3 separate regions of the Homo sapiens genome follow, and regions 2 and 3 are each linked to region 1. The links come from fine-mapping of genetic effects on gene expression. A gene starts in region 1. Each other region holds a variant in brackets. All regions are shown on one strand. Distances are from middle to middle.

Evidence for each region. PIP is the estimated chance that this variant, and not a neighbour inherited with it, causes the effect.
Region 2: its variant is fine-mapped to the expression of TP53TG1 in whole blood (INTERVAL, PIP 0.99).
Region 3: its variant is fine-mapped to the expression of TP53TG1 in unexposed skin (GTEx, PIP 0.94).

The regions. Positions count from the first base shown.
Region 1 is chr7:87,342,171-87,350,359 of GRCh38, reverse strand. TP53TG1 (TP53 target 1) reads left to right here and starts at 4,868. Exons shown (of 3, transcript NR_015381.1): 1 at 4,868-5,317. CROT (carnitine O-octanoyltransferase) reads right to left here and starts at 4,696. Exons shown (of 18, transcript NM_021151.4): 1 at 4,593-4,696; 2 at 3,930-4,020; 3 at 1,177-1,312. The coding sequence starts at 1,291. RefSeq lists a silencer at 4,671-4,880.
Region 2 is chr7:87,178,912-87,187,100 of GRCh38, reverse strand. DMTF1 (cyclin D binding myb like transcription factor 1) reads right to left here. Exons shown (of 18, transcript NM_001142327.2): 8 at 7,399-7,556; 9 at 5,760-5,792; 10 at 4,764-4,873; 11 at 2,476-2,704; 12 at 1,121-1,272. Among named protein-coding and RNA genes, the nearest start is that of DMTF1-AS1, 31 kb to the right of the region's middle. The variant AG/G (reference allele first, on the strand shown) is at 4,587.
Region 3 is chr7:87,446,800-87,454,988 of GRCh38, reverse strand. ABCB4 (ATP binding cassette subfamily B member 4) reads left to right here. Exons shown (of 28, transcript NM_000443.4): 5 at 397-454; 6 at 1,854-2,045; 7 at 3,195-3,366; 8 at 4,897-5,021; 9 at 7,784-7,955. Among named protein-coding and RNA genes, the nearest start is that of ABCB4, 25 kb to the left of the region's middle. The variant A/G (reference allele first, on the strand shown) is at 4,115.

The DNA.
Region 1 (8,189 bases):
AACTTCCCAAATAAGACCAGTGGGCTTGCAAAACCATATGGCTTTATACATTCTTTAACTGCAGCCAAGGGAGGAACTTGTGTCTTGAACAAAACTGAATATTATGTTCCTGATTACTGCCATAATATATCCCAGGACATGAGTTCTCTAGAAACTTGTATTTTGGCTATGGATTCCCGGTCTTATGACCCCATAACAGCATAGTTTCATGAGCTTTCCAGCACTTGGAAAGCATTTCTTTTCAGTATGCTTGGTATTATAATATTCATTGTTATTAGTTATTGTGCTTTTATTTCTGTTGTGTTTATTGTATAGGGTTGCAAGATAAAATAGTTTAGCAGCTGTTTCACCTTTCTATTTACTAACCTAGTATATTAACTTTCTAGAAACAATTGGGATATCATGCAAGCAAGGAGCTCCCTTACTCCCTGAAGAGGCTCACTGCACACTATTATGAGAAGACCCTGTCCCAACCATCAACATCTACTGCCTCCAGGAAGGAGTTACAAAAGAACAACCTTCACCCTTTATCTCCCCTTAAGGTTAAGGGTTCTCTCATAAGTAGAGGGGGAAATGTTGGGGAAGCAGGAGCTCAGGAGAGCCAGAGTAACACCATTTTAAATTCAGCTCCATCTTGAGACTAGCAAGGCACGTTCCTTGCCAGTCATGACCCAGTCATAAGATATTTACAGTTGAGGAAACAACCTAAAGATACTTACAATGACACACTCCTACAACAGTAGAAAGTCCAGATGTCTCAATACCCATAACAATATATGTTTTTGAGATGATTAACATAATTCTTTGATGTATTCATGCACTAAAATGTCAAGGATTGTTTTCTTTAAATCAACAGAATAATAAATTTTGTCATGCTGTCTGCTCACCCTCACATAGGCACAGCTTAGTCTTTACATCGATAAGACCCCTATGTAAGAAAAACTTAAAGACAGTCTGCTTGCTTTCTGAGGATGTCCTACTCTATAATGGAGAAGCTTTCAATAAACTGTCTCTTCTCACTGCACTCTGCAACTCACCTTGAATTCCTTCCTGCAAGAGATCCAAGAACTCTAACTCTCTCTTAGAGTCTGGATCGAGACCCCTTCTCCAGCAACAGTATCACAGTTTTCTAAGTTACTAATAATATTAATATATACTAAAAGATTATTAACATACCTGATTCAAGGTATTTTTTTAATGATTCTTCAAGTGAAGGAACAGGCAGTGATGGAAGAGAATCCTGGTACTGAAATGTTCGTTCTTCAGTTGATTTAGCCAATTGATTTTCCATGATAAAATCACAATAGGAAACCTAAAGAAAAGAGAGAGAGCCCTCACAACTTCAATCTCATAGATAGTGTTACGTATCCTAGGTACAATTCACAATTCACTAAACCAGTATTTAGGGACCACAGCATATCTAGGACTTGGTACCAGCTTTTATGAAATTTATAAATCTGTCAGATAGAGAAAACCAACTTAAAAAGAATGTGTAGACACAAAGTGCTAGAAGTAAAGAGTGATCAGTGGGACTGGTATAATTAGTTACCATTTATTGAACACCTAGCATTTGCCAGGTACTCCAGTTTGCATTACAGAAAACATGTGTTAGCTCTCTAACTTTTATGTTATCTCTGAAAGGTGGCATTCTTTGCAATTTTACATATGAATATATCAAAACTCAGAAATTTAGTAACTTACCTAATGTCAAACACAGGACCCAAACCCAGATCTGTTAAGACTACAATCTTTCCCCTATACAAAACAACATGATAGAAGGTAAGGGAACCTGCAGTAAATCTTAGTGGGTAGATAGTATTTGATGTATAGAAAAGGATTATGTGTTGATATTGCATTGATATAGAAAACTTTGGAGCACAAAGTACAAAGAGGTGTGGAAGTGTCCAACTGTAGAATTAAAGATTATTATAGAATACATAAATCATATGACAAGCTGCTTTAATTGCACAGGTCGTATGAGGTCTACACAGAATGGTCTCAAGTGTTCCAAAGCAATCTTGAACATATTGACACGTGTATTAATTGCTATCAAAGAAATCTAACTCAAAATGTGAATAAGGTATACAAATGCTAAATAAAAAATGAGGTTTCTCAAAGCCTTTGTAAATTATCATATATTAATTATATTAAATAATGTAATATATTAAATGTAATTATATGTTAAAATAGCAACTGAGAAATCAAAGAACGTTAATATTGAATTTGAACTTCCTATTCTCTCAAAAACTATTTTTTAAAACTGATAGCAACGCTAAACAAAGTATTCCACTCATAGGTTACAGAATCGAACACTATCAAAAACATGGACACAGAAGAGACTATTTTCAGCTAATACCTGTTTTCCTCTGCTTTAACAGAATCCTGAGTTGTAGCTGTGCATACAGCCCCCAGTTTTATCTTTCCTACCCTCTCTTGGAGCTCAGTGTGGCTTTGTGATGACCTTGTGTGTGTCACTTCCAGGTCATGCTCCCAAAAAGGAATGCATGTGTTCTCCCTGCACTTTCCCTCCTTTTTACTACCTGCTAGGTAGTGACGAACTAAACAGCACCATGGCCTCATTTATGGAAGTCATATATGCAGGATTGCAGAATCTCCCTACTAGTCCTGGACTCCTACCTCTAGATGTATGGAAAAAAAAAAACTTCTATTTTATTCATACCATTGTATTTTGGGCTTTCTATTGTAGGGAGAAGAGCTTAGCCTGTACCACTAATATAAAGAGATAATTTGAAAATGAGAAATAATAATTAACTCAAAGTTCTTTAGCTTCTTTCTATCTATTGACTTTGGCTGCACACCATTTTGACCATCCATAAAAATGGGTTTGTACCTAATGGAAATGTAGATCTGGATCCAAGTACAGACTCTGCCACTTTCTAGCCATGTGCCCCTAGGGCAACCAACTTTAAGTGAATTTCCTTATCTTAGAGTGGTTAATCATACAATTCAATAAAGTCAGAATTTGTTTTCAATGCCTGTGAAAGCACATTATAAAAACAAAATAATCCTGCCTGAAACCACCATATTGTGGTAGGCACAATTACTATGAATGGCCCCCAAGATTCCACCCCTGCTAATCCCCAGAACCTGCGAATATGGTGAGATCATTACTCCTGTGATTGTGATATTCTCTACAGAACTGACCTTAAAATAGGGATATTATCGAATTGGAACTAATCTAATCACTTGAGTCCATAAGAGCAAAGAGCTTTCTCTGGCCAGTGGCAGACAAGTAAGACTGCTTTAATGCTTGAGAAGGATTTGTGGTGTCTTTGAAGATGCAGATGGCCTTAAAGAACTGAAAGAGGCTCAGGCTGACAAACAGTAAGGATATAGAAATGTCAGTGTGAATTCTACCAACAATCTGAAATAGCCTGGAGGTGGATTCTCCCCTAGAGCCTCCAGAAAAGAATCCAAATCTACAGAAACCTTGGTTTCGGTTTTGTGAAATTCTAAGCCAAGTACTCAGCTAAGCCCACCCAAACTTCACATTTACAGAAGCTATGAGATAATACATTTGTGTTGTTTTAATTGTTGCATTTGTGTAATTGGTTAAGGCAGCAATAGAAGACTAGTACACACATACAGAGAAGATAAGCTATTCTGTTTACCTCTGTGCCACTTAATAGACTCTAGAAAACTGGAAGCAAGAGTATTAGTTACATACCCACTATAGTGCTTAACCCACCAACCGGTACACATTAAAAATATAAATTATTGGATTCTTTCTTGAAGAGTTTTCTTGAATTCTCAACCACAAAGATTAAGTTAAATAAGATGGTTCCAATAGCACTAAGAAAATGATTATGCTAGATTTAATTAGAATTGACTTTCTGGGGGCAATTAGATATGAATTCACAGAAAGTGGAAAAGAACCACGAACAATACGTGAAGGAATTGTCACATACCAGTACACCAAGAAGATGAACTGCTTGAGACTGCCAGGAGCCTGCTGCAACAATTGTTTTGAGATCACAGGGAACTGGACTAAGTCGGTGACTGTGGGAAGAAAGAAACAAGCTTAACAAATATTTAAGAGGGAAAAAGAAATGAACAAGCTAGTGAAAGAAGGTGGAATGCAGACAAACTAGGAGTTGGGAGTTCCCAAGACAAACTTTTCGTGAATCACTGCAAACACACGCAAATAGTCCACCTGCTAGAGAGCAGGAGTAAATGATCATACAATTAAGTAGGTTTCAGACAAGTACACCTTCCATTAGACGGGTTCAAAGGGTAGAGGATACGTTTTCAGTGGCTGGGTAACAGGTTCGTCGCAGAGTGGCAAGGGGTAGAAGCAGGAGCAGAGGGCAATGAGAGCTCGGAGGCTCTTCCCACCAACCCAAGAGCAACTCTGCACTCAAGAGGCCATCAAGTGAGAGAAATCTAAGCACTACAACGGAGCAGCCCCGCGGCCCAACCTTGAGGGTACCCCTGAGACCCCAGCAGGCGAGATGCTTGATGACACTACTCCCCCACCAAATCCAGGCACCTTTGCGGTTCTGCACGACTTAACTTTCCCCCGCCCCCGAGTTGAAGGATTAGGGGAGGGAGGGAATGCTGCTTCAACGGACCTGTCCGTCCTCACCGCCCGCGCCTCGCCGCCTCTGCCGCAGCCTCAGCCTGCAGCAGCACCGGCTCGCTCCCCCTTGGGCCTCAAAGGTGCGGGAATTGGACTGAAGGCCGCTAGGGTCCCGCCCCGCATTCGCCGGGGAACAGGATTGGATAGAAAGCCGCGAGGGTCCCGCCCCTCACTTTCCGGGGAACGGGACTGGACGGACAGCTGCAAGGGTCCCGCCCCGTGCCTGACGTCGGGGGCGAGCCGGGCCTGCGCGGTAGTGGGACCCGACCCTGTCTCCAGTGGGCGTCTTGGGCCCCGGCTCTATTCTGGGCTGCGGGCCTGGGAAGGGCTCGCCGGGTGCCAAATGAGCTGTCCTAACTCTGCGGGGCTGCAGCTTCCTGCATGATGCTGGGGAGCTTGGCGCCTGACCCAGGATCTAGAAGGCACTCTGGGCAGGCCGCGCTCCGCCCACGAAGGTACCCAACCCTCTGGGATAGATGCAGGAAGCGATGGTTAAGACCCATTTTCACCCAACTTCTCGCCGCAGGTCTGGCTTACCACACGCTCCTCCCCATTCCCAGTGAGCCGCTTTTTGCAGCACCAGGCGAACACTTACACCAGTGCTTTGTAAAGGAATCTTATTGTCCACCCCGTGTCTTGGCAAAAGAACAGTGATCACACAGATTCCTACTTGGGCTCTTTCCTTTAATCTTCGGAGGCTGAGTTTGCCCAACTCAGGTATGCCGCAGCACACTACATCATCTCGGGTCTCCTTGCTCTTCTGCAGCTCTTCATTGCTACCCAAGTTATTTGAATACCCCAGGGATGCTTACCCCCGGGCCTATCTGATGTCTTTTACTGTTGTGCCAAGAAATGGAATCTTTAACCAGAGTGGAGCTACCCAAGTTCTAGAAGATCATAATGTGATTGACTTAGTTTCACAGATTAATTCATTTTGCTTTTACCTTCTGAAATAAAATATACTGTTTCATTTTTAATTTTAAATACACTGTTTCATTTTTTTGTGGAAGGAAAGACCAAATGTTTACACTGACTCTGAACTAGTTATCAAAGATAAAGATTTAGATTTCAAATTAACATGTCATGACAGGCCCCATTCCTTTGTCTGTCGTTTCTAACTCCTTTAGCAGTAAAGTTTGACCTGAAGGGAAGTGAGGCTATGTGTAACTGAATGTTCCCTTTGTGTAAATATTCATAAGTTTTCTACAGAAATATTGTGTTTGATTACAGTACAGCTTGCTGGAAGTGTTTCATAATATATGGCAGACGTACTATTCTAAGAAAAGTTCTGAATTTTGAAACATATCTAGCCAAAAAGATTTTAAATAAGGGATTAGGAATTTGTAGTTGTAATTTCTGAAGGTGTGATAAAGAACTTTTTCTTTCATATATAAGTGCGATGCTCTGGATGATGTTAAAGTTTGCTTACAAGATAAAGTTTTTAAATTGAGTAACTAAAAACTACTCAGAAACCTTCGTTGTATTTTTTTTCTCCTTTTTAGTGAGTCTTGGCATCTCTTTAAAAGTTTATGCATGTTTAATGCCTGTTGGTGCATAGAATTTAGAACCATTTCGCTTCACTCTTTTTCCTACTCTTGTTGTTTATTTCAATGGAAACAAGATGTTTCTGTAAAGATTCCTGAATTATCGGATAGACAAAAAGGTGTGGGAGTGAAAAAATGAATGGAACACAGATTTGAGTATGTAGAAAAAAATCTTTTAAAATATGTTATACTGATAAGCATATGTACCCCAAATCACCAAAAACAGGTATTTTAAAATATGTTTGGCTTCAAAATGTGTGATATATATTTTAATGAAAGATTCCAAATTATGTTGCATTCAGGTTAAACTTGAACGAGTTTGCATTTCTTAGAGTGGAGCGGGAGATATTGGCTGGTAAGGAAGATGTTTTAGGCACTTGAAGTATTTGTGATAGCAAGAAGTTGTTCCAAGATTAAAAATTGACTATGAGTCAAAGTAACTTTTTGGAGGAAAATTTGTAAGTAGTACAAGTGGTGATAATTTTTTAAGTTGCCATTAAAAAAATCTTTTATTTTTGTTCTTCTGTAGTTCTTACTCAGCATACCACAAATTGCAAAAGACTTTATAGATAAGTCTAGATAAATTTCACCATTAAAAAGTATTAAAATGCTAGACTAAGAAGTTCATGTTTCAATCTGCATAACTGGCTTCCTGCTAAGATTTGTGACTCTAATAAGTAAGGAGATATGGTAAATAGCCCTAATCTATGGGAGACCTGTAACCTCCTTTCATTCTGATGTATAAAATGAACATGTTGAAGAAATAATTTTGTGATGTTTCTTCTTTTTAATGGGGGGGCAGTAGAAATATGGTCATTTTGGGAAGCAGCCAACAGCAAATTAAAGTACACTGGACGCAAAGAGGGCAATGTAGCATTAAAAATGAACTCCACTGCCAACAGCAGATGAACAGTGTTTGATACAAAAGGTCTCTTTTTAGTACTAATCATTGATTTGGGGTTGCTTTTGATGATATTTACAGTACATGAAAAGTTGCCACCAAAATCTGAGGGGAAGAGTTAAGATAACTATGATGTTTTTGCATCTCAGAAAAAAATACCTTCTTACTAAACAAAATATAACATTTAAAAATTTTGTTAACATCTTTGTTGAAATATAATTTACATACCATAAAGTTCGGCCATTTAAAGTCCACAAATCAATGGTTTTACTATATTCACAGGGTTATGCAGTCACCATAAGCTAATTTTAGAACATTTGGTTCAAATATTTAAAAAGATTATTTTCTACATACTCAAATCTCTGTTCCACTCATTTTTTTCAGTCCCACAACTTTTTCTATATCCAAAAATCCAGGCATCTTTACAGGAACATTTTGTTTCCATTGAAATAAATAACAAGACTGGGAAAAGAGTGAAGCAAAGTGGCTCTAAATTCTGTGTTACCAACAGGCATTAAACATGATTCATCAACTGACTGATGAATGTATGAACCACTTTTTGTTTGTCCATTCATCAGTTCATGGACATTTGGGTTGTTTCTACCTTTTGTCTATTTAAATAATGGTACTATAAACATTTGTGTACAAGCTTTGTGTGAACAGGCTTTCAATTAGTATTTTAGGAGTGGAGTTGTGGGGTCGTATGTTAACTCTATGTTTAACATTTTCAAAAACCGTCAAACTGATTTCCAAAGGAACTGTACCGTTTTTACATATCTGCCAGCAATATGAGTTTCAATTTCTCTGTGCCTTTAGTTACAATAACAATATAACAGCCCTTGCTATTGTCTTTTAAAAAAAATACAGCCACTCTAATGAATGTGAAGTGGTGTCTTGTGGTTTTGATTTACATTTTTTTGTGAAGACTAAGAGTGTTGAGTATTTTTTCATGTGCTTATTGGCCATTTATATATCCTCTTTGGAGAAATGTTTATTAAGATCCTTTTCCCATTTTTTAATTAATGCACACATTTTAAAATTATATTAAAATTAGGCAATGGTCTGACCATAAAAAGGCTGCTTATGGAATACTGTTATGTTAAACTTCACTTACAGGATGCTAAATCCTTAGAACTGAGGTTTT
Region 2 (8,189 bases), 160 kb after region 1:
ACCTAAATGCAAAACAGGCAACAAAAAGTATGCTTCACTTTAAGCAAACCCAACTTAAGATCTCTAGATTTATATAATTAATAAAATTAGAAAATTACAGAGCCTTTGTTCTACAAAATTATCACAGAATTTCTCTAACACACCTAGCTAAGATATTTGAAATTATACAACTCACAAAAGTTGACTTAAACTTAGGTTTTCAGAAGTACATCTTTGTACAAAATAAAAATATAGTCATCAATCACTTAAGGATGGGGATATGTTCTGAGAAATGAGCCATTAGGTGATTCTGTCATGGGATCATCACAGTGTACTTACACAAACCTAGATGGTACAGCCTACTACACACGTAGGCTAGATGATCTATACAGTCTATTGCTCCTAGGCTACAAACCCTTACAGCATGTTACTGTACCAAATACTGTAGGCAACTGTAACACAATGGTAAATATTTGTGTATCTAAACATAGAAAAAAAGTAAAAATACAGTATTTTAATATTGTGAGACCAATACTATGTATGACATCTGTTGTTGACTGAAAGGTTATGAGTGGCCAGCTATGCTGGCTCATGCAGGTAATCCCAGCACATTGGGAAGCCAAGCTGGGAAGATCACTTGAGCCCAGGAGTTGGAGACCAACCTGGGTAACATGGCAAGACCTCATCTCTACGAAAAAAAATAGCTGGACATGGTGGTGTGTGCCTGTAGTCCGAGCTATTCAGGAGGCTGAGGTGGGAGAATCACTTGAGCCGACAGGTTTAAGGTTACAGTGAGCTATGATCACACCACTGCATGTCGGCCTGGACAACCAAGCTAGACCCTGTCTCTAAAAACATAAAAATTAAATCGTTATGTGGCATGATTTTATTTCCTCCTGATAGTTTACGTAGAAGAACAAGAATAAGTGTGTACATTTTCATTTTAGGGGCTTTAGGAATTACAAACAGTATTAACTCTTCTCTGGGGAAGGAAACAATTACTGAGAGAAACAGGGAAGTGGTGTAAGTAGAAATCTGCTATGATATCTCTAGCTGGGGCAAAGAACTTCTAACCTCTCACTCCTAAGGAGTAAATATGGTAAGAAAAGGGGAGGAGCTTAAAAAGTAAGTAATACATTACCAGGGAACGAAACATCCTTATGGTTTGCAATTTGCCTTTTGATGGTCCACCATTTACTTCGTAGCCATTGTGGTGAACGGACACTACTCCATCCCTCAGCTAACAGATCCCAGTTAATGTCATTTTCATCAGCTACATCAAGTTCTGCTATCCTACAGTTACAAAATAAGCATCGTTAGACATTAAATTAATTTCTCTATAAGAACCCCTCCTCTGACTACAGGTAATTGCACTGGCAAATAAAGGGAATGGCAGGTTATGCCAATGAGATGCTATTGTTAAGTTACACGGGAAAGGATTCCAGGAGTGCAGATCTGCTTTCAGAGCTAACAGCTAAGAAATACCAACAGCAACCACTTTTAATTAAAGGTACAACCAATGGGCTAAACTATAAATGGTTAGAGCCAGATGAGGCACTGTGAAGGAAAAGGAGTATGCTAAAGGTTAGAATAAGAACAGATTTAGTTGTATATATGCAATGTTTCATAGTGTGGCATTTACTAAGTCATTTACTTCCTGGATCTGAGCGTTTCCATTGTTAAGCAAAAATATTTAGAAATGAGCTATTTATAAAGATGACTAGTTGAAAAAAAAATCCAAAACAAAATAACACAAAAGCAATAGCTGCAATCAAAAAACAACACAACAGTACAACAAAATTTGAGGTTTAAAAAAATCTGTTCGTTTTCTAGCTTTGTTGTGACAATTTGATTTTCGGTAGGGAGTAGCCATGGTGACAGTCTCTATTACTTCAGGGTCTTAAATAATTTCTTGCTAGTATTTTTGCCCATTTTAGTTAATAAATCTTAATGGTTAAACCAGCTACTTAAAAAAATAAGCTGGGATTATGATATCTTAAAGCTTTTTTGAATTTGTATGAAATGGATGTGTTTGATTTGGTCTACTTTGGAGGTGTGGAGGTAACTACAGACTGGGCCCCCTTCTTGGCAATCTTAGCACAGTAGCCAAGGATTGAAGGGCATGGAGACTGAACAGCCCTCTTATCCTAAACGTGTTCCCCCTAGGCTAGGACTGAGGCACATTGGTGGGACAGTGGAAAAGCTACACTGCCGCTGCCTGTGCCATACCTGTTCTGTGGATATAGAGAGGACTTCAGTCTCCACGCCTTCAATCTGGTACTTTGCATGAGCACTAAACCCACTAAAAAAAAAAAGGAACAAACACAACACAAAAAAAGAGCTCAATATGAAATACTTAAGATCTTAAACAGTAGTGCTCTATGGAAAGGATACTTTTCAGACACTAGGCATCCAGGAAAACCAAAAGAGGAAAGTCTATCAAGACATCCACAGAAATTAAGTTGCTTTTGTCATTACAAGATTCAGGACACAAACCTGAGGATGAGATTGATTTCATCTTCCTTGGTCCATTCAGTACCCCCACTCTGTTTCCAATTCAGGTAGTTGAGCCATTTAGAACGACATTGCTTTTCTGAGCGGGTACCGACTCGTTCAGCCACAGCTGCCCAAGACACACCCTGTGTGACTATGTCACCTGGCTCAGTGCTTGTCAACTCATGAACCACTTCTGCAAGTCTCTTTTCTTCTTCTTCTGTCCACTTCCCTGAAAAAAGGAAATCATCCAGACTACCACTGCTAACTTCTTTTACAAATCTGATTCAGCCCTCTATTTACAAGGACTGATAGGAAGTAAGCAATAGTACTAAGAGTTTGTTTCTGAATGACCCTCTGGTGGAAAACCATATATACCCACTAAGACAGTTTCATTTTACTAGCCCAGTAAGGGTCTCAGTAGAAAAGAAAATAAAGAATCCTAATGGAAAGCACTGACCAATTATGAAAAGAAAAACCACCCAAAACATAACTACAAAGAAGAATGTATTCTCAAGTTACACTAAGTCCTTTATAAACAGTGAAGTGGGAAGAGCTTCGTCAATGGCTGACAGACAAGAAATGGCATGCTTTTTTTCTTACTGTCACCTAAGATTCCCTGCTCTGCAAAAGTAAGTTCAAGAGGCCATTACTTATAGGAATGAATGATGAGGGACAAGGGAAATTACACCAATGGGCTCAACCTATTTTAGTAAAAACTAGGTTTCTACCATCTTGTTTCCTCACTATCCCAACTCCAAGCTACTGTGATGAAATATTAGTAAAGTCTGATACAAGTATTTACTTTTATTCCTGTGTTTTCTCAACCCATAAACCCACTAATAGATAACCCCAAATGTTCCTCTCTGTCTTTTTCTTATGGAGCTAGAGCAGAAAAACAGAAAGGGAAAAAAGCCATTTTTTTTCATCTTCTTTACCTCTGTTTCCATTTTGTTATTACTAGCTGAAAACCTCTAGAAAATTTCAAAAAGACTGTGCTTGCTTTGGGATTCCATTCATCTAGCAAATGTTTATTGAATTTTCATTATATGCCAAGCACAATTATGAATACTGTGGATGGATTCAAGACAAAGTTCTACTCTCCTATTCTAGCATGCTGTGAAAGGATGGGACTACTTTGAGACTGTGCTGTTTCATGGCATGGCCTCATCAGCAGCTGTATGTCACAACATGAGAAGGAAGCAGGCAGATCAATCAATCCCTCAGGTTGGCAATCAGGAAATGCCACTGTGTCCTTCCAAATTTTGTTACCAAAAGGGGTTCTGTACTCACAGCATCTTACATGAAACTCTGAGATCCTATCCTAAATCTAAAGCTTACAGCCCTGCTTCTTTCATTAAGCTGGCCATGTCACAGAATGACAAAGTTGGTAGAAGTTATGTTCTCACTGCCCTGCAGGTAACAGTGATAGTGCAGTAGTTAAGCAGGAAAGAATTCTGATTTCATTTTTAGAGCAGGGGGTTAAGGTCAAAATGTATATGCCCTGGAAGCTAAAGCTAAACTTCAGAAATTTTTTTTTTAATTGCAACAGTGGGCATGGATTGTGGATCCTTCAGAGAACATTATGGCTAAAAGGGCACTATGAGACCACCTACTCTAATCTCTTTACTTTACAGAAGGAAGTGAGGCTCAGAAAGGTTAAATGACAGTTAATAGCAGAGCCTAAATACGTTGTTGGTCGCAAAGATTAGGTTTAACAGTATGATCAGGACATCTGCATGCATTAAGAGGCATTTGTGGTCTTGCCAGGGGACTGAAACACCAATCATAAATTTTTTCTATGGAAAAATATACTTTGAGTTTAAAATAAGCAAAATATTTACAAATCTTTGGAACACAGCTTCTTCCTAATTTGGGACTTACCTGTGACTAAAGTTTTTCATAAACACTCACTGATTAGCTGTTGCTAATGTAAATTCAACAGTTAGATGGGCCTAAATTAAAATTACTTGCTGCATGTATGTCTTCAAAATACTTTCTCAACTGGGGAAGTATTGAAATTGTTACAAAACTGAAACATGTTAGATCTGAATCATCTTGACACTAAGGTGATGTTGTGTCCCTGAAGACAATGTTACCTTATACAAAAACAA[AG/G]TAAAAGATTAGTTTGATATATCTAATAAGCTCAAGGAAAAGGAAGACTAGAAAATAAAGTCTGAACTAAGGTGAATGATCTAAATCGCTCCCCAAGAGCAAAGAAAAGGCAGTATCCTAAGGGGCAGGAGGCTTAAGTGGTGACAAGAAAACGCTACCAGTAGTAGTCACAGTACCTGTGTTGCAAGTATCCTTCATCAGTCGGCACCGATCTTTGACAGAAGATGCACTTCTTCCTAGCGCCGCCCCTATTGTTGCCCAGTCATTGCCATGCTTTATCCGGAGCCTAAAACAAGAGTCTGCCAATCAGCATTTGGTTCAATTGTTTTCTCCCTTTTAATTTCATCATTTATTCTTCATTCTTCTTCTTCCCATTTGACTGGTTTGGAAGTTGTGGGCAGCAATACTTTGAGAGCCAAAGTTTGAAAGTGTGGCCTTTTTTTGGGGTCCACAGTTGTCTGTGGGTGAAAAAAAAACAGGCAGCAATTGCCTTTTTCCTGGGTCAGAGAAGAAATAAGTAACTTGGATATGTGTTCAAAAAAGACCAATTTCCCCTCAGGTTACTGACACAATCTCCCAGGCAAGCCCCAGACTTTCCCTTTTGAGCATATACCCAACAAACTCTTCTTTAGACATCTAAAGTTTCACAGGTCTTTATCATTATAAACAGAATCTACCTTCAAATTTTTTCATGATCCATACAATTCATTAAACCATACTTTAAGGTCTAACTCAATAAAGCAAAATTCTACTTCCTGAGATTCAATAGCCTTTGCAAGGTTGAGTCAGCCCAGATATTCACTGAAACATTTGCCAAGTCACCATTCTAAACCAAGCCATGTAGCACAACCCTGGTTTTCATCCTGGTATATAAATTCCCCAAATTTAGTCTTCAGGCTACCAAAAATGGCCCCTTAATCTTTTCTGGAACCCCTATTAGTGGTCTGAGGAAGCATCTGGTGAATGGCATCAGGAGACCAGATTATACATTATGAGAATGGTTATTTTGTGCAAGTAATGGATTTGATGTGATCTTTTTAAGGCCAATCATGCTTAATAGCACAATTCAATTATACCAGTCTGCCAAAAACCTCTTGAAATTTTCAAAGTAAAACTTTTAAGGACGTAAGACATAAAAAATTAGAATTAATGAAAAAAACTTTAAAACTTACTCCTTGAGCTTCTCAATTTCTTCAGGTGTATATCTAGAAATTCAGAGAAATTTTTAAAAAATCAATTAAAACAATGAATGCTAAAAACCTCAATAAAAATCAGAATTTCATTTAGGGAGCTGAATGTTAAGTCACTTAGCATATAATACTTTTAAAGTAACCCATTTTAAAGTGGATTAATAAAAGTTGAGAATAGGCAGGGTGCGGCTCACGCCTATAATCCCAGCACTTTGGGAGGCCAAGGCAGGCGGATCACTTGAGGCAAGGAGTTCGAGACCAGCCTGGCCAACATGGCAAAACCCCATCTCTACCAAAAACAGAAAAATTAGCTGGTGGCAGGCGCCTGTAATCCCAGCTACTAGAGTGGCTGAGGCAGGAGAATAGCTTGAACTCACGAGGCAGAGGTTGCAGTGAGCCAAGATCATGCCACTGTACTCCAGCCTGCGCAACACAGACTCTGTCTCAAAAAAAAAAAAAAAAAAAAAGTTGAAAATAAATGCTTCTATTTTTATTTTTTTTTAAACAGTAAATATTTTTTAGTTATAATAAAGGTAAGGATTGTATAATTTTCTCTAGAAAAAGAATCAACATTTAAAACATACATTTGCTCCTATGCTGTCTAACAGTTCCTTTATTTCAAACTTAGATTTTGGCACTCTCAAATCATAACTACTCCAAAAAAACTTATGGGTGACATTGTAAACTAGAGCTAAAAAGAAAATCTACAGAAAATTCCCTCAAAGCACTGAACAAATTAAGATTATCTTCATTTCCTTTACCCAGGTATGGACATCTGACATACTCTTGCTCTTTATTACAGTAGGCAAGTACTCAATACAGCCTATGTAATGTTCTTTTTAAAAATGTCCATTTAATAATTATGAAACGCTGCTCACTTTGTAACCATTTGTAATGCATGGAAAGTTTATGAATTGCTAACAAGTCATTTATGCTCCATTTAAAATTTTTTCTCTTTTTCCACTGTCACAAAAACATAATTTAATCCTCTTCAGCTTTCAAATGTACTTTCATTAGCAGGCTGCTGAAGAGCTAGAGAAAGAGCTCCAACATTAGCTCGGCAGTATCTAATAAGCCATACTACTGCCACCTAAAATTTCCAAAGAGAAATTAAAAATATGTCAGTAACAGTATATAATCATTGCATTTGAAGAATCTTAATGATGCCTTCCCATAAATGCTATCTAAAACAGAAATCCATACATTGTTTTCAGAAATGTAGTTCTTTTCCATTCTGGATTTAAAAAAAGGCCACTGACCTAGGAATGCTATATTCTAAAAATAAATAGGAAAAATGTTACCAATAAATTTCAAGTTATTTTCACACTTCTTAAATCTTTAATCATTACTGTATTTTTTATGTTACTTTACTACAAAGCAGACTTTGACATATTAAGTAAGCCAAGTCTTAAATCTAACCTATATAAAGTGAATTAGATCCTAATTTCTAAAAGAGGCTTTAATAATAAGGTTTCACCATATTCACAACATGGACCTGGAGGATAAAAATATTAACAACAATTAATACCTTGACCATATTTCTATTGTTTAAAAAAATGGACAGTTCCTCAAATATTTCCCCTAATTACATGAAAACATGCAGCATTACAAGTTCTCATACTTTCCCACATGGTTTCTGTCATCATACATGCGAAGCACTCTTCTATAAACTGCAAACAAAGGCCGGTTCAGACCCCATGCTATAGTCCTGTAGAAATCTTTTCTTTCGTCTTTTGACATCTCAAAGATGATTTCTGTAGCATCTTTTATTCCGCGTGCCTAAATGGGTTACATTTCTTTGATTTAGGGATTTCTGATAAAATGCATATGGATATACTATGCTTTTAAAATTTGTTTTAATGTTAAAGGTCATCAACGGCATTTAGAAAAATAATATATCACTAATTCATTAATAAATCAAATATAAACTTTTAAGATGATGCAAGAGATACAAAAGTGACACTTAAATGTTCCAAGAATAAACTATCAAATTCAATAAATTGAATTTCCATCAACTCTTTTAAAATTATAAAAAGTTAAAAATAGATCTAAAGAAAGCAGAAGGAAGAAAATCACAAGAGCAAAATCAATGGAATCCAGAATCAAAGCACAGAAAGGATAAACTAATCTAGAAATTGGTTCTTTGAAAACATCCATTAAGATTAATAAAACTTGAAATGATTAAAGTTCTGCCAAAATTTTAAAAAAAGACACAAACAGTATTAGAAATGGAAAAATGAGGCCTAAATAGAGACGCTGCAGAGATTAGACCATTAACAGAAATGAACAATTTTATGGTAATAAATTTAAATGTTGGTAAAATGAATCAATTCCTAGAAGACATCAAACATCAACTTACCAAAACTGACTCTGGAAGAGACAGAAAATCAAATAGGCACAGACCATCAAGAA
Region 3 (8,189 bases), 100 kb before region 1:
TAAATCCTGTGTTTTCTATTTTAAATATTTCTTATTCCCTCCTCTGTCTTCTGTGTGTTTTGTGGCTTCCTTGTCTCTTCAGTGGCTCCTCTGTGCCTCCTTAGAAGGCTGCTTTGCTAAAGGCTGAGACCGCCAGGATGGGGGAAAGACCTGGGAGGGCTTATCTTCCCCTTTCTTGGCCCTTAATGTCCAGTACCTAAACCCTTGGGCTCTTTACTTGAGTAAAGTGAAAAGAATGCACTTAAGTGTGCAAAGAAAAGTGTTTTTTAAAGAGAAACTTAACAATAGCATCTTCTAGCTTTCATACATTTAAATTATTAACAGATTTTTAAAAACCTGGCAATGCCTATTAATAGTTTGATCTTTTAACATGTTTTATTTTATTTTTTAATTTAGTGAACTTTTCCTTGTCGCTGCTAAATCCAGGCAAAATTCTGGAAGAAGAAATGACTAGGTAACTCATATATATGGTCTACTTTTTTAAAGTTTCATTTGAAGATAATTTCCAATTACAGAGTTATAAGAATATACAAATAACGTGTACTCTTTACCCAGATTCACCTATTATTATCATTTTTGCTCCCAAATCCCAATTTAAAGTAAGATGCACACATCATGGCCCTTTACTGCAGTATGACTCCTAAGAATAAGGATATTTTCTTACATAATCACAGTACAGCTATTAGCTTCAGTAAATTTCAGTACTTTTATCTAATATAACATCTATATTCCAATTTTGTCATTTGATCCAATAATGTCATTTATGGCATTTTCTCCTCCTTCTAGTTTCTCAATAGAAATCTCTAAAGCCTGTAAGCATGATGTTTGTATGTCTGCATAGCAGTGTTGCTGATTGTAACGAGTGCTGTCTGTATGCTAAAAGGCCTGAAAGGTGTCTATCTGGAAGCAGTTTATAAAATTAGATAATAAAAATTTGAAAGTATTGATATGTACTTATTATTTTTTAAAATACTAACTTTCTACTAATTTGGTAAAACATTCCAAATTCGTTTGAATTCATGACATTTTATCATATCTTTTTTTAAAATATTTCAAATTCTGACAAATAGGAACAAAGTTTTTTGGTTCTTTTTATAAAGAATGTGGAAAAATCAATATGGAAAGGGCGATTTCACATGTTCAATCTGCTTATTACTATATTTGCAATATGTAAATAGTAGTGAACTTTTCAGTACAATAAGATATACAAGTCTAGAATATAATTATTAAAGAGGAGTTAAATTGTATCCACAAGTTATCAATATCAGTTAAAAACAAATCATTAACTTTTTTGCAGTTAACAACAAAAATTTATCCATTTTCTTTGGCTAACAGTTCAAGTAAATAGATTTGCCATCATGGAGCTCATCACTTTATAATTTAAAAAAAGAAAAATGTAATGTCTGTTTGTTATAATGTCCTATACAGTTTTTGTTTTAAGTTTAGTAAATTGATTAATTTCCAGTTCTGAAAATTTCTCCTGAAAGAGATGAATAAAGGATGGTAGGGTGGGGGTGGTGGCTCATGCTATAATCCCAGCACTTTGGGAGGCGGAGGTGAGCAGATCACTTGAGGTCAGGAGTTCGAGACCAGCCTGGCCAACATGGTGAAACCCCATCTCCACTAAAAATACAAAAATTAGCCAGGTATGGTGGTGCATGCCTGTAATCCCAGCTACTCGGGAGGCTGAGGCAGGAGAATCACTTGAATCCAGGAGGCGGAGGTTGCAGTGAGCTGAGATGGTGCCACTGCACTCCAGCCTGGGTGACAGAGTGAGACTCAGTTTCAGAAAAGAAAAGAAAAGAAAAAAGAAAAGAGAAGGTATTTAATAGAGCCTTTCTCTTTTTTTTCAGATATGCATATTACTACTCAGGATTGGGTGCTGGAGTTCTTGTTGCTGCCTATATACAAGTTTCATTTTGGACTTTGGCAGCTGGTCGACAGATCAGGAAAATTAGGCAGAAGTTTTTTCATGCTATTCTACGACAGGAAATAGGATGGTTTGACATCAACGACACCACTGAACTCAATACGCGGCTAACAGAGTAGGTACATTGTTAATGTCACACTTTCATATAGAAATTAATTACTGTGTGAAAATATGTCAAGGAAAGATTTTAAATGAAAAATGTTACTAGATTGAGCATCTGATCTATATTAGAAATCGATCATCTGGCAGCCATGTCTAGCAGCATCTATAGCCTATGCCATTGCATGTTGGCTTTCCCCCAAGGTGCATAGTAGGTTTATTTGAGGACTGAATTCACATCTTATACCTGTTTATTTCTCATGGAACTTTCTACTGCAGGACGTGACAGGTGCTAGACTGTCAGTAAAGATGGTTGAATCAATGAATAGATGATTGAATTAATTTACAAAGAGACTTGCTTTAGTAATTGTCAACTCTTCACTTATTCAACAAATATTTGAGGGTGTTTCATGTGCGAAGTACCATTCTGTGTGTTCGTAATATATCAGTGAACAAAGCACAGATCTCTGTCCTTTTGGTGCTTACATTCCAGTAGAGGGAGATAGATGATAAACTTTCCTGACTGGGAGTCCTGGCAAAGGCATCCTGAGCAAATAAGTCAAAAAAAAAAAAAAAAAAAAGGGAAAAGCAAGACATTTAGGGCCTTGTAAACCTCCACAAAGACTTCAAGACTTCAGCTTTCACCCAGTGAAATGGCAGCCGCTGGAAGTTTCTGAGCTGAGGAGTAGCATGGTCAGACTTGCATTTTCAAAGCATCCCACTGGCTGCTGTGTTGAGAATAGACTTGGTTGGGAATAGGGACAAGAGTAGAAGCAAAGATCTCTTCCCTATTACTTCCCTATAAGAAGAAATGCAGTAATACTTCCCTACTACTGTTGCTTATTATTGTTGCAATGTTCTTCTTAATTCTTGCTTTTAAACAGATACATTTTTATGCTCAAAATGTTAATGCTTCTCTCATAGGATTGACTCATTTAATAGTATCAACTTAATGATACTAACTTATTAGAAGCATTGATCAATCCTGAATTTCTTCCTTTGTGCGGTGTTTAGGTGGGGAAGATGTTATTCAAGAGGCTAAGACTCTGAAAGAGGCTTGCAGTCAGTGAACAAATTTTACTTGTCTATGTGTTTGTTGGATGTCTACTTCATCTTTCTAACTGAAACCTCCTGCCTGTAACCACTTAGGTGTGATCTTTTTTAGTGACATCTCCAAAATCAGTGAAGGAATTGGTGACAAGGTTGGAATGTTCTTTCAAGCAGTAGCCACGTTTTTTGCAGGATTCATAGTGGGATTCATCAGAGGATGGAAGCTCACCCTTGTGATAATGGCCATCAGCCCTATTCTAGGACTCTCTGCAGCCGTTTGGGCAAAGGTATGTGAAAGCTGGGCCTTTTTATGTGTGTTAACCCCTGCACACAGTAATCTTTAATATGCAGAAGTCTCGTACTTGTACCTGTTCAGGTCTACATTAAATGTCAGTTGAAACTACATCCAGTAACATGGTGTTAATATGATGCTTTCATAAGGAAATTAATTTTTAACATAATTCAAAATGTCACAGGCTGGGTGTGGTGACTCATTCCTGTATCCCAGCACTTTGGGAGGCCAAGGTACATAAATCACTTGAGGTCAGGAGTTCCAGACCAGCCTGGACAACATGGCAAAACTCTGTCTCTACTAAAAATATGAAAAACTAGCCTTGCGTGGTGGTGCATGACTGTAATCCCAGCTACTTGGGAGGCTGAGACAGGAGAATCGCTGAACTCAGGAGGTGGAGGTCGCAGTGAGCCCAGATCATGCCACTTCACTCCAGCTTGGGTGACAGAGTAAGACTTCATCTCAAAAAAAAAAAAAATTCACAGTTCTTACTTCGATTACCCTTAGTTAAGGAAGTGCAACTTTAAAATATAACATTTCCCTCAAATTATTGCATGAACATAAAAATTTTAAATAGAGTTTGTATTTGTTCTATTTGTTTTAATCATTACCTGTGATGGTTAAGTGGCACTCTGCCAGTTTTGCCTGGCAATAAAATACACAAAATGTATTCTACTTTAGCCAACACTTCAGAGTTGAGAAATTTTACTGGCAATTTTTGCTCATCCTGACGTTGATGATTT[A/G]CACAGTGAACTACCTGTATCTCTTTTGTTTTGATTCTTCCTTTGCTTTTCTCCTGAAACATCTTGTTTGGCTATCTTATTATTCAGCAGAATGCCCATGAGGAGGTCTGGAAGTATTGTTTTTATAGTAATTAAAAATTGTGACACAAGTCCAAAGTGGGTGGATCACGAGGTCAGGAGATTGAGACCATCCTGGCTAACACAGTGAAACCCTGTCTCTACTAAAAATACAAATAATTAGCCAGGCGTGGTGGTGTGCACTTGTAGTCCCAGCTACTCGGGAGGCTGAGGCAGAAGAATCACTTGAAACTGGGAGGCAGAGGTTACAGTGAGCCGAGATCGTGCCACTGCACTCCAGTCTGGGCAACAGAGTGAGACCCCGTCTCAAAAAAAAAAAAAAAAAAAATTGTGACACAATAAAGTTAAGAATGGTAAATTCTTTCAAAGCAGTAAAGTTTTATTTTATTTTACCTTACAACTAACAAAGAAAAACAGTAGATGTGGAACTTGACAGTGTTCCCAAGAGTGCTATTTAGAGAATTATGTGTGGATTTTCTTTTTTCCTGAGTACTCTTGGGGAGCCTATCACCAGGGTGGGTCAGATATAGCCTTTGAGGGATGTGGACGCAGCCATTGGATCCAGAACACTGGCATTTGCTACATGACTTTAATATTTGTTAAAGGAGAGGGTTTGGGAAGAAAAAGTAGGTTAAAGGGTTGACCAGAGTGCCTTTAAACTTTTCTCCCTATACAAAAGTGATCACTGTTTCTTTTCTGTCCAGATACTCTCGGCATTTAGTGACAAAGAACTAGCTGCTTATGCAAAAGCAGGCGCCGTGGCAGAAGAGGCTCTGGGGGCCATCAGGACTGTGATAGCTTTCGGGGGCCAGAACAAAGAGCTGGAAAGGTCAGGAAGGTTCTTTAGCCACTGGTTTAAGGAATGTGTTTTTACATTTTGTTGCTTCTTCTTTGTGGTATGTGTTTTTTACCTTCCCTTTCCTAATATTAACCCTTCTCGCATAAATTATAAGCACCCTTTACTGATGGCTATAGTTGAATGTCAGACTCTAAAGCAAGATTCTTAATCATTTATGTTCCATGGACTCTTTTGGCTATGTGATAATACAAATGGACTCCCTTGTTTTTAAATGCATAAACCAAAATATGCTAGCCCTTTGGGAAGCCAAGGCAGGAGGGTAGCTGGAATCCAGGAGCTCAAGACCAGCCTGGGCAATGTAGTAAGACCCTGGCTCTACAATTTTTTTTTTTTTTAATAAGCTGAGTGTGGTGGTGTGCACCTGTGGTCCCAGCTACTCAGGAGGCTGAGGCAGGAGAATCCCTTGAGCCCAGAATGTCAAGGGTGCAGTGAGCTGAACTCCAGCCTGGATGATAGAGTGAGCCTCTATCACAAAAAAAGAGTAAAAATTTTTTAAAAACCAAAAAATAAATAAATAAAAGCCCCAAAAAACAAAATAAGTAGGGTTACAAAGGAAAATAATTATATTAAAAATACTTATCAAAATATTTTTTATTTTATTTTACTCCTTAATGACTATGAACTGGAATATAGAAGAGAAAAACCTGAGAAAACATCGACTTCCTAGTTATAGCCCAGAATTCTTTGTAGGGCCTTGTGGGTCCTCCATAACAATGAGGCAGGGCTTCCCACCCAGGCCTCTGGCATTCAACTTTAATGATCCAGGATAAGCCTGGAAAATTGACCAGTATCTGGAGGCATGTTGCAAACTCTTCTCTGAAAAAATTATCAAGGCATGATTGACATATGAAAAGCTGTGTATACATCTTTAGTGTGTATATCTCAATGAGTTTGGGGATAAGAATACACCTATGAAAAAGGCTATTCTGCTCTACTTAAATGAAAATAATTACTTAGGGTTTTATTTAAATAACAATATCCCCTACTGTAGTTGAAGTATGATTCCATATAAAGTATTTTCTTTGGCTATTCTATGGGACTCTTGATACTCACAACTCTTGGATATAAAAATTCTCTGGAAATTCTCTAGCATTAAAAACAAAGTTTCCCTTATTCCCCCCATTTAATTTTCTACTTTTCTATTCCTTAATCCCTCTTCAAAGCCAACATGTTTCTGATCCTCTAACCTCTTCCTTTTTTCTCTCTCACTGCTGCTTCCTGTACATAATAGTCCACACAGACCACACTAACCCTCAGTTGGACCTCAGGATGTCAGTGTAATCTGTGCCGCTCCATTAGCCCCGGTAAGCGAGCCACCTAAGCAAAGGTAATTACAGTGTGTCCGCTGCTGTCACTGGAGCTGTGTGTCACACTGGGCAGATGCAAGTCTTCCTGCCACGCCTTGAGGCTCAGCCACACAGGAGAAATCACAGCGCTAGCTGTGGCCTGCTGGCTACCCCCAGAGATGCAGCTGTGCTCTATGAATGCAGCCCCCAACCAGAGGAAAGCACCCTGAAGACCTGGGTGCTTTACGCAATAAAAAAGACAAACCTTCTGATGGCAGAATATGTTTTTTAAAAGACTAATGAATTCTCATGTTTTATTTGGTTCAACACTAAAACTGGTGTTGCTGTGTTTTGTTTTTTGTTTTTTTTTGTCACAAAGAAAAATATCCTAGTTTGTGTGATATTTTCCCCTCGAAGTGTCATTGCATACCCATTGGATTTTTCTTTAAATTTCAGGGAGCCCAAATTAAATTTTACATACCCTCTGGGTCTAGTATGAAAAAGTAGATTTGATTTAACTTGATGAAAAAAAATTGTAATTTAACAGAATCATTCTAGATATTTTAAACTTTATATCAAATGCCAGCAGCCAGTAATAATGCATTTGAATTATGATTCAAAGATATGATAGTAATAGAATGAGCAAAACTCAGGAAGAGATAAAAGTTGAACACAATGATACTAATATAATAGTAAGAGAAATGATCAGGCTTGCTAACTATGAACCAGCTACTGTACTACTTTCTACAATTATCTACCAACCTCACAATTATCTTGCAAATTAGGCATTATTAAATCCATTTTTCATATATGAAACTAAAGTCTGGAAAAATTGAATAAGAACTCATATTCCATAAGTAGTGACTACCTTATAACCTGTATCTAGCTTGACAGATGAAGGTCAGCCTGATTTTTAAAAAAGTCAAAGAGAGAAGCCTATGTTTATGTACAACAACATGTAAAATTTTCATCCCTCACCCAGTGGACAATAGAGGGACGATTTTCTTTTCTCCAGAGAAGAGACATTGACCAGAGTTAAGAATCTAACTGTTTATGAGTTCCAGTGACATTTACAATCAATTCTGGTTTGGCTTGGTTTCTCTCATTCCCTCTTAACCCTGACTTGTGATATTGCCGTGAAGGTGATGGAGAAGCTCTTCCATATCCCAGGGTGAGCCCTCAATTCTGGAATAACCACAGGAATGTTGGTTGGCTTGGAATGGATGAAGGGAAATGGAACCGGGCCAGTAAAGAGAAGGCTTGGATCTGTTCTAGGCCTGGCTGATCCTGAATTAGTTCAATTCCCAAAGATCTGGGTCTCACCATGGGTTCATTACCTTGACTGACTTTGTTACTTAAACCTCCAACTATATAGGAGCCGAGTGTGACTCGGACTATGGATTGTTATTCTTAATTATAATGTTTTCCCTCTCATTTTTCTGGTAGGTATCAGAAACATTTAGAAAATGCCAAAGAGATTGGAATTAAAAAAGCTATTTCAGCAAACATTTCCATGGGTATTGCCTTCCTGTTAATATATGCATCATATGCACTGGCCTTCTGGTATGGATCCACTCTAGTCATATCAAAAGAATATACTATTGGAAATGCAATGACAGTAAGTAGTTCTCCTAACATTTATGAAGAATATGAAAATCTTATTTCTCCATCTACCTTCTCTTTTCTTTGATATCGCTCCTTTTTGAAAGATGAACATGATTATAGGTTTTTGTTTTTGGTGAATCTTTCCACTGTCCAGTGGGCAGAGCTGACTTTCTAGTATATACAAGTCATAATTATGAGTGTGGATAAGAAAATAGCATGTGGTTAGACCATTTGTGAAACATATACA